Regions from separate parts of the Homo sapiens genome. Here region 2 is linked to region 1. The links come from fine-mapping of genetic effects on gene expression. Tissue or cell type: whole blood. Region 1 holds a variant in brackets; the other region holds the start of a gene. Each region is shown on its reference strand, or each on the opposite one.

Region 1 (4,394 bases):
GGGCAGGTGAGGTCTGAGATTTCAGTGCACCCTGAGTTCTGAGGGGATCACACTCCCCTGGCTGTCCCAGGTGAGCCACCTGCTGGAGCCCATGTTCAGACAGTTATGGCCTGTAGAAAACTTGGGAAGGCTCTGGAGTTTTAGCAGCTTGGGGATACCCACTTCCTGCAGCCCCTTGGCTCCTGCTGCTCTGGTGTGCATGGAAGGAGTAGAAATAGGGAATTTCAGAGAGCGGGTTAAGAGGGAATTGCATGAGGGGGAGCAGCCATGCCCACGGGAATGGCCCATCTGTGTCCTCTGCCCCTGAGGCCTCCTGGGCAGCTGCAAGGTGAGGAAATCTGAGGAGAGGCAGGTTGAGGTTACCCCCCTGGCTCTCATGGCTTGCTGGGTAGAAAGAGGTGGAATCCCTTTCTCACACAACTGTCTTCGTCACTCTCCACATGTCAGGCCCCAGACTCAGCTCCCCAAACCCCTGAGGCCCTGGGAATGCATGGTGTAGTGGTGGAGACAGCAGGTAAGTGGCTTTTTTACCTCAAGGCCAAGGAAGAGGAACAGAGGCCCCAGCCATGAGATGTGGGGCACAAGCAGAGAGGAACCTGGATGCGGGGCAGCCCCATGAGTTGAGGACCCTCACAGAGCTGACATAACTCAGATGTGGGGAGGGAAAGGAGGAGGAGCCAGTGGAATTCAATAGCACCCATGGCCCATCCTGATTCTTACCAGGTGCGATCATCTATTGAAAAAGTAGAAAATAATTGTTTTTCTCCTCTTTGTGCCCCCCTCCACTTTTCTCTTGTCCTCTCCCAGTTTTCCCAGGTGGCCAAGCTAAGTGGTCCCTTACCATCTGGACTTTTCTTGAAGCAGAACATCAGGATGGTGTTGAGAGAGAGCCCTGTCTGCTGTCATGGTGCAGGTCACCGCTAAAAGTATTATGATGGGTGTGTACACAGGTGCAACGCCTTTGAGAATCAGGCCCTCCCCCTGCACTCACACACAATTGAAAGGAAAGGGAACCAGGTCCGGAGGCATGTGAGCTGTGGTCACTCTTACCCTGCATGAGAGGGTAGCCAGGCCTCAGGAGGATGAGTGAGTATGGAGAAGAGGGAGGCTGAGACCCCAGTAGGGCATCCCCAACCTCAGCAAAGTTTCCTGGGCTCCATATGTGACCTCAAAGCAAAAAGGTACCCTACCTGGAAATACTACAGGCCTGGACAATGAGGAAGACAGAGGCAGCTGTGATGAAATGCAGAGTAGGGATGTTCCTCTGATTCTCAGGGCTCTATAGCAGCATCTTGGACACCCCGGCAGGAAGAAGAACCTAACAGTGTCCAACATGGATTATGTAGGAAGGACAAGGTCCTGGGGTCAGATTTAAGTTGGTTTAAGGAAAACAAATGTAGCAAGAGTGAGATTCATACCAATTATATTTATTTGATTGTACAGCTCCCTCTTTCCTACCTCACCCCCCTTAAAGTAGATTATGTATAAGCTATGTTAAAAGTAGATATGTATAAGCTATTTTACACACACACACACACACACACACACACACACACACACACTTATTTTTAGAACAGTTTTGGGATCACATCAAAATTGAGCAGAAAGTAGAGAGATTTCTTATATGTCCCCTGCGCCACATGTGCACAGCCTCCCCAGCTATTGACATCCTGCCCCAGAGTGGTACATTTGTTACAATCCATAAACCTACACTGCTACTTCCCCACTGTATAGTTAACATTTAGGGACTTTTCCATTTATAGTTTACACTGGGGACTGCTCTTGCTGTGGTACATTCTATGTGTTTGGGCGAATGCACAATTACATGTATCCCTCATTGCAGTATCATACAAAATAGTTTCACTGCCCTAAAAAATCCTCTATGTTCTGCCTATTTAATCCCTCCTTCCCTCAACCCCTGGCAACTACTTATCTTTTTTATAGTCTCCATAGTTTTGCCTTTTCCAGAATTCCAAGAGTTGGAATCATACTGTATATAGCCTTTTCAGCCTGGCTACTTTCACCTAGTAATATGCATTTAAGTTTCCTCCATGTTGTTTCATGGCTTGATAGCTCGTTTCTTTTTAGTAGTGAATAATACTCTATTGCCTGGGGGTATCACAGTTTATTTATCCATTCCCTACTGAGAGACATTTTGGTTGCTTCCCAGTTTTGGCAATTATGATTAAAGCCATTATAAACATTCGTGTGCAAGTTTTCGTGTAGACAATGTTTTCAATTCATTTGGGTAAATACCAAGTAGTGTGATTGCTGGATCATCTAGTAAGAGCATGTTTCGTTTTGCAAGAAACTGCCAAATTGCCTTCTGAAGTGGCCATACAGTTTTTCATTCTCACCAGCAATGGATGAGTGTTCCTTTACTCCACATCCTTACCAGCATTTGGTGGTGTCAGTGTTCTGAATTTTGATCATTCTAACGGGT[G/A]CGTAGCAGTGTCTCATTGTTGTTTTAATTTGCAATTCCCTCATGACATATGATGTTGAACTTCTTTTTGTATGCATACTATTTGTATATATTTTTTGGTGTGGTGTTTATTCAGGTATTTTCCCATTTTTTAATTGGGTTGTTCATTTTCTTATTGTTGAGACTTCTTTGTATATTTTGGATGATAGTCTTTTATCAGATGTGTCTTTTGCAAATATTTTCTCCCAAACTGTGGCTTATCTTCTTGTTCTTTTGACATTGTTTTTCACAGAGCAGAATTTTTTAATCTTAATGAGGTCCCTCTTATCAATTCTTTCTCTCATAGATCTGTCTTTGTTGTTGTATTGAAAAAGTCATTGCCAAGGCCAAGGTCACCTAGATTTTCTCCTATGTTATCTTCTAGGAGCTTACAGTTTTGTGTATTATGTTCAGATCTATAATCCATTTTTAGTTCATTCCTGTGAAGGGCATAAGGTCTGTGTCTAGATGAATTTTTTTTTATGTGGATGTCTAGTTGTTCCAACATCATTTGTTCAAATAACCATCTTTGTTCCACTGTATTACCCTTGCTCCTTTGCCAAAGATAATTATATTTATGTGGGTCTATTTCTGGGCTTTCTATTCTATTCTGTTCCATTGCCCAATTTGTCTTTTTTTTTTTTTTTTTTTTTTTTTTTTTTTTTTTTTTTTGAGACAGGACCTCACTCTGTCACACAGGCTGGGATGTGGTGGCACAATCACAGCTCACTGTAGCCTCAACTTCAAACCCTTGGGCTCAAGTGATCCCCTCACCTTAGCCTCCTGAGTAGCATGCACCACCATACCTGACTAATTTTTCTATTTTTTATAGAGACGAGGTCTCACTATGTAGCCTTGGCTGGTCTCGAACTCTTGGACTCAAGCGATCCTCCCACCTCAGCCTCCCAAAGTGCTAGGATCACAGGTGTGAGCCACCATGCTTAGCCTGTTTTTAAATTAATACCACACTGGCCAGTCGTGGTGGGTCACACCTGTAATCCCAGCACTTTGGGAGGCCGATGTTGGCGGATCACTTGAGGCCGGGAGTTCAAGGCCACCCTGGCCAACATGACAAAACTCTGTCTCTACTAAAAATACAAAAATTAGCCATATATGATTGTGTGGGCCTGTAATCTCAACTACTTGGGAGGGTGAGGCACAAGAATCACTTGAACCTGGGAGGTGGAGGTTGCAGTGAGCCAAGATTGTGCCACTTGCACTCCAGCCTGGGCAGTAGAGTGAGAGTCTGTCTCAAAACACAACAAAACATTATCAAGCTTAAAAAAAAATTAGTGTTACACTGTCTTTATTACCATAGCTCTGTAATAACTTTTGAAGCCAGGTAGTGTCACTCTTCTGATTTTCTTCCTCTCCTTCAATATTGAGTTGGTTATTCTGAGTCTTTTGCCTCTCCATATGAACTTTAGAATTGGTCTATAGATATCCACAAAATAATTTACTAAGATTTTGAGTTGGATTGCATTGAATGCATAGGTAAAATTGAAAAGAGCTGACATCTTGAAAATATTGAGTCTTCCTATCCATGAACATGAAATATCTCTTCCATTATTTAGTTTTTCTTTGCTATCTTTCAGAGTTTTACAGTTCCGTTCATATGAATCATATACATATTTGATAGATTTATAACTAAGTATTTCATTTTGAGGGGTGCTAATGTAAACGGTAGTGTGTTTTCATTTCTTTATTTTTATTTTTTACCATGTTCTATCATCAGTGTTTAAGTGGTTACATGTTTTAAAATTCAAATTCTACTTGTTTGTTGCTAGTATAAAGGAAAGTTATTGACTTTTGTATATTAACCTTATATTCTGCAATCTTGCTACAATCACTTATTAGTTCTAGGAGTTTTTTGTTGATTCTGTTGGATTTTCTTCATAGACAGTCAGGTCATCTTCAAACAAAGACGGTTTTG
Region 2 (4,394 bases), not on the chromosome of region 1:
CGTGCCACCTCAACCCTACTGGGGCAGACTCTCAACTCGAAACATGGAACCTGAGTCTTGGACTCTGAAAGCACCTTCTCCTGCCCAGTTATTTTTTTTTGGGGGGGGGGGGGCAGCGGGGCATTGGGGGGTAGGTTAAAGACAGGGTCTGAACTCTGTCACCCGGATGGAGTGCAGTGGCACGATCCTAGCTCCAACCAAGTGATCCCAACCAAGTGATCCCAGCTCTAAGCCTGGAACTCCTGGGTTCAAGCAATCCTCCCACCTCAGCCTCCCAAAGCTCTGGGAAGACAGGCAGCCACCCAGCCCAGACTCTTTCCTAACTGTTGATGGCTACCTGTCTCTGCTGATAGCTGTGAAAGGAAAATACAACCTTAGGACCCCAAGCTCAGGATGCCAAAGGGAAAAGTTAAGCTTGGGAACTCAGTCATGCAAAAAACAAAACCGAAAACAAAACTGCATTCCTTTTGTTGCCAAACAGATAGCTATAATTTCACATGCTTACTTTATCTTACGTAAAATGTAGATTTACTGAGCATGAGAAGAATGCACCCAGGGAGAGCAGAGAGTCAGTATAACTACTTCATGGTTACCCACAAGTGGAGAAAATCCGAAGGCAGAATGGCCCAGAGCAGCCGCAACATACAGGGAATTAGCAAACAATGAAAGCCACTTAGGCACGAGGGCTGGAGGGAGGACTCAAAAACACAGCCTATTCTGTTTTCGTAAGGAGGAAAGACAGTAATCCACTTTTCTGATACTCTATTTTCAGGGCTCACCTGGGCCTAAAACTGCACCAACCACAGATGAACTTTAGCTGGCAGTCAGATAGACTCGGTTTGTAAAAGGCAAGAGCACTGGGTCATATCCAAAAAAAGAACAAGAAAATAGACCGCGACCCCGATTTAGATCCAAAAGACCAGAGTCCAGATTGCGACCAATATCTGGTACTCTACTGTTTGTGAAATGAGACCAGTATCTGGTACTCTACTAGTTGTGAAAGGGTGCTTTTCTCATACCAGCAGAGGGGCAAAAGGCAAAATGAGGCCCCTGCCTGGTTCCGTAAAATATTTTACCTTCCTGGTCGGTGGCTTTTTTTTTCTTTTTCTTTTTCTTTTTTTAAGAGAAAGCGTTTTGGATGGGGAGTCCCGCCCCGGGAGTCTTCACCAGGCGGCCAGAATGGCAAAGTCACAGGGATGGGGTTGAGGGTGGGGTTAGGGGTGAAGGGGCAGAGAGTTATTTGCAGCCCAAGAGCAAGTCTGCACAGCGTGAGGTCTGGCCCACTAATAGTCCCGAAAGAGGAAGCGGCGGGGATTTTATCCGGCCTGAAGCAGCCCCATAACTTCACTACCATGAACCGAGAAAAAAAAACTTCACGCCTATTCCTCCCTTACAGGAAGGGAGGGAAGGGGAAGGGGAAAAGGGGGCAGCAAATGAGCAGGGCGAACCGGCTTTTCTTTCTTCGGTAGCGCTCTGCTCAGATGTGAGAAGTAACGGGTCACCTGGCCACTAGGAACAAAAATGTGGTCCCGCTCTGGGCTCCGAGGCTGCGCGCGCCTCGAGGAGGAGCTGCCCGCAGCCCTGGCTGGAGCGAGCGCCCGGGACGCATCCCCCGACGCGGCGGGAACAGGATGCGGGACCGCGAGGAGACAATACGCCCGCCTGGGCACGCGCGCTTTAAGGGAAGGGGGTCTCCAAAGTCAGCCCCCACCCGGGAGGAGCAGGCGCCCGCGCTCCCCACACCCTCCTGCGCCCCCTCTGTCGGCAGCCATCTCCGACACAGCTCCTCCGAGCTCGCGCTCTCCATCGCGCCCTTCTTCCTTCAGCACACTAGGCTGCCCTGGGACTTACGATTGGCTTGGGTCCCCGGTCCCGGTCCCCGCCGCGGGAGGACGGCTCCAGCACAGGCTTTGCGCGCAGGTCGAGGGCCGAGGCGCCGCTGCTTGCAGGCGGCTGCGGTGGAGCTTGCGGCCCGGCACTTAGAGGGGCGCGGGCGGCGATGCCCCCGCTGGCTCCCACCTTCTGGCCTGCAGCGGCCGGCTCTACTGAACTTCAGAGTTACTCATTTCCTGGATGTCACAAAAACTTTTTCCTCCTTATAAGAACAAAACACCCGCCTCTACCCGCGGCCCCGGAAGCTCCTTAAGGAGGACCGTGTGGGTTTCGGTGGTTGGGCCCAGGATCCGCCGGGAAGACCTTCCCAGTGAGCCCCCAGAAACTTCCCCGGCACGGCAGAACTGGAGAGTGACTGGGAGAGACGGAATCAGGCCAGTGGAGTAAACTGGAGCGAGTGGACAGGGGCGCGGGGAGGACGCCCTTAAAAGTCGTCCTAAGCCGCGGAGCGGAAGGGGTTAAGTCCTTACCAGTCGGGGAGAGTTTTCTGCGGCGCGTTTTACAAGTGGCGGAATTCCTGGGGCCACCTATTTAGTCTCTTGGAGGAAAATATAACTCTAGACAAAACGCCAGCCTTTTTCTCTTTTGCAGCTTGAAAGGATTAAAATAGCTTACTACCGTTTTTTTTTTTTTTTGAGAAGGAGTTTCGCTCTTGTTGCCCAGGCTGGAGTGCAATGGTGGCGCTATCTCGGCTCACCGCAACCTCCGCCTCCCGGGTTCGAGCGATTCTCCTGCCTCAGCCTCCCGAGTAGCTGGGATTACAGGCATGTGCCACCACGCCCGGCTAATTTTGTATTTTTAGTAGAGAAGGTGTTTCTCCATGTTGGTCAGGCTGGTCTCGAACTCCCTTCTCGGCCTTCCGAAGCGCCTGGGATTACAGGCGTGAGCCACCGCGCCCGACTTTTATGATAATCAAATGCATGGTTGCTTTTCTCCGGGATTAACCGGGCACAAAGGAGAACAGTGACCGGATACTGTACGGGACAGGCGCGGTAGTTTCTGGTTACTGTTGTGACGGTAGATCAAGTGTTACTACCCCTATGTTAGAAACGAGAGAACTGAGGCCTGGAGGAGCAGCAGCAGCGTTCTGGTCGAGCTTAATAGTTTATGAAATCCATAACTTCTATTGTCTTCCCTTTGACCTGCCCAAATCCTACCATCAGTACAAAAGGCAGAGCAGGGTTTGAATGAATTCTCCATTAAGCGGCTTTGGGGGCACCAAATGCCAGTGAAGGCACATTGGGGAAATTGGAACACAGTGTCCAAAATGATCACCATTGCTACTGCTATTTGGTCTTAGATCACCTTTTTTTCGTCTTTTCCTTTAACACTCGCCTGGAAGACTTTTTGGCTGAGTCTGAAAGATAAACAGGCAATGAGAAAATGTTCTAAAAATAGACTCCCTGGCCCTTGGCCCAGGGTACTTTTGTTTTCAAGTTTCTACTGCTGCTCAAATTCTTTCCTTACGTAAGAGGTTATGGCAGAATTTTGGGGGCCAGTATGTGTGTTGGAGGTGGTGGGGGCGATCTGGGGAAACGGTCTTGAAAGAGCTGTATTTCCAAAATGTCTAGAAGTTGGTCCGGTGGGTTACTCACACCCTCCGCAAAGCAGGTGGGGGAAATTTCTGTGAAGTAAGAGCGCTGGGCTGAGCTTTGTCATCCTTGGGCTAAGAGTTCAGCGTTGTGCTGGAATGCCAAGGTTAGTGCTTGAATGCCCTCTGGGATTGTCATCCCGTCTGCAAAGTTGTTTCAGCAATTTCTAACCAGCCATGTATATTTATATAAGGAATATTTATTATATTTGTTTTGCTTTTAACCTGATGATTTCACCTTCTGTGTTCTGATTGGTTCCTGTCTGTTCTAAGGTCCACCCTTCTACCTGGCTTGTAAGTCGTTCATGAACTGGCCTCTGCTTATCTCACCAGCCTCATATCTCACTCTGTGTCCCACACAAAACTCCTTGCAGTTCTTGGAACCTGTGCTTCCCAGAACGTGATATGCTCTTTGATATGCTGTTTGCATGATATGCTTTTTCTCTCCCCTTGGATATTCATATGTACTCTACTTTCTGCCTGCCACAGCCACCCCACCTCCTCCTCCAAACTGTCACCCCAGTGCACATGCATGTTATTTTGCCCGACTAATTGTATGCTCAGTCTTCCTGTCTCAGAACAGGCAGTTACTCCTTCAGGAAGTCTTCCTGGAACCCTCATGTCTGGATTGGACACCCCTCCTGTCGTTTCTACAGAACACTGTGCTAACTCGAGAAATGTTTTTTAAAAGATAGGAAAGTACAAAGATTCAAGTTATGGGAACTTGAGGAGTCAAGAAGTCAGGGAACTCCTGCTTCGAACAGTGAAAGGCTGAATAAAATATATCAACAACGGAAGGGAAGAAAGGGGGTCTCCAGGTGTGAGATAGGTCAAGGGAACTCAAAAGCATGACATGAATATAAGCCCAAATGACTAAGGACCAGGGGTGAGTACCCACTCAGGGATTGGG

The links.
Region 2: it holds the start of ITPRIP, and the variant in region 1 is fine-mapped to the expression of ITPRIP in whole blood (TOPMed, PIP 0.95).

The regions. Positions count from the first base shown.
Region 1 is chr2:86,385,100-86,389,493 of GRCh38, forward strand. No RefSeq gene overlaps it. Among named protein-coding and RNA genes, the nearest start is that of REEP1, 50 kb to the left of the region's middle. The variant G/A (reference allele first, on the strand shown) is at 2,444.
Region 2 is chr10:104,336,395-104,340,788 of GRCh38, forward strand. It overlaps ITPRIP (inositol 1,4,5-trisphosphate receptor interacting protein), which reads right to left and starts at 2,071. Exons shown (of 2, transcript NM_001272013.2): 1 at 1,852-2,071. It also overlaps a transcript of CFAP58 not described here. RefSeq lists enhancers at 749-948, 3,697-3,991 and a cis regulatory region at 3,214-4,394.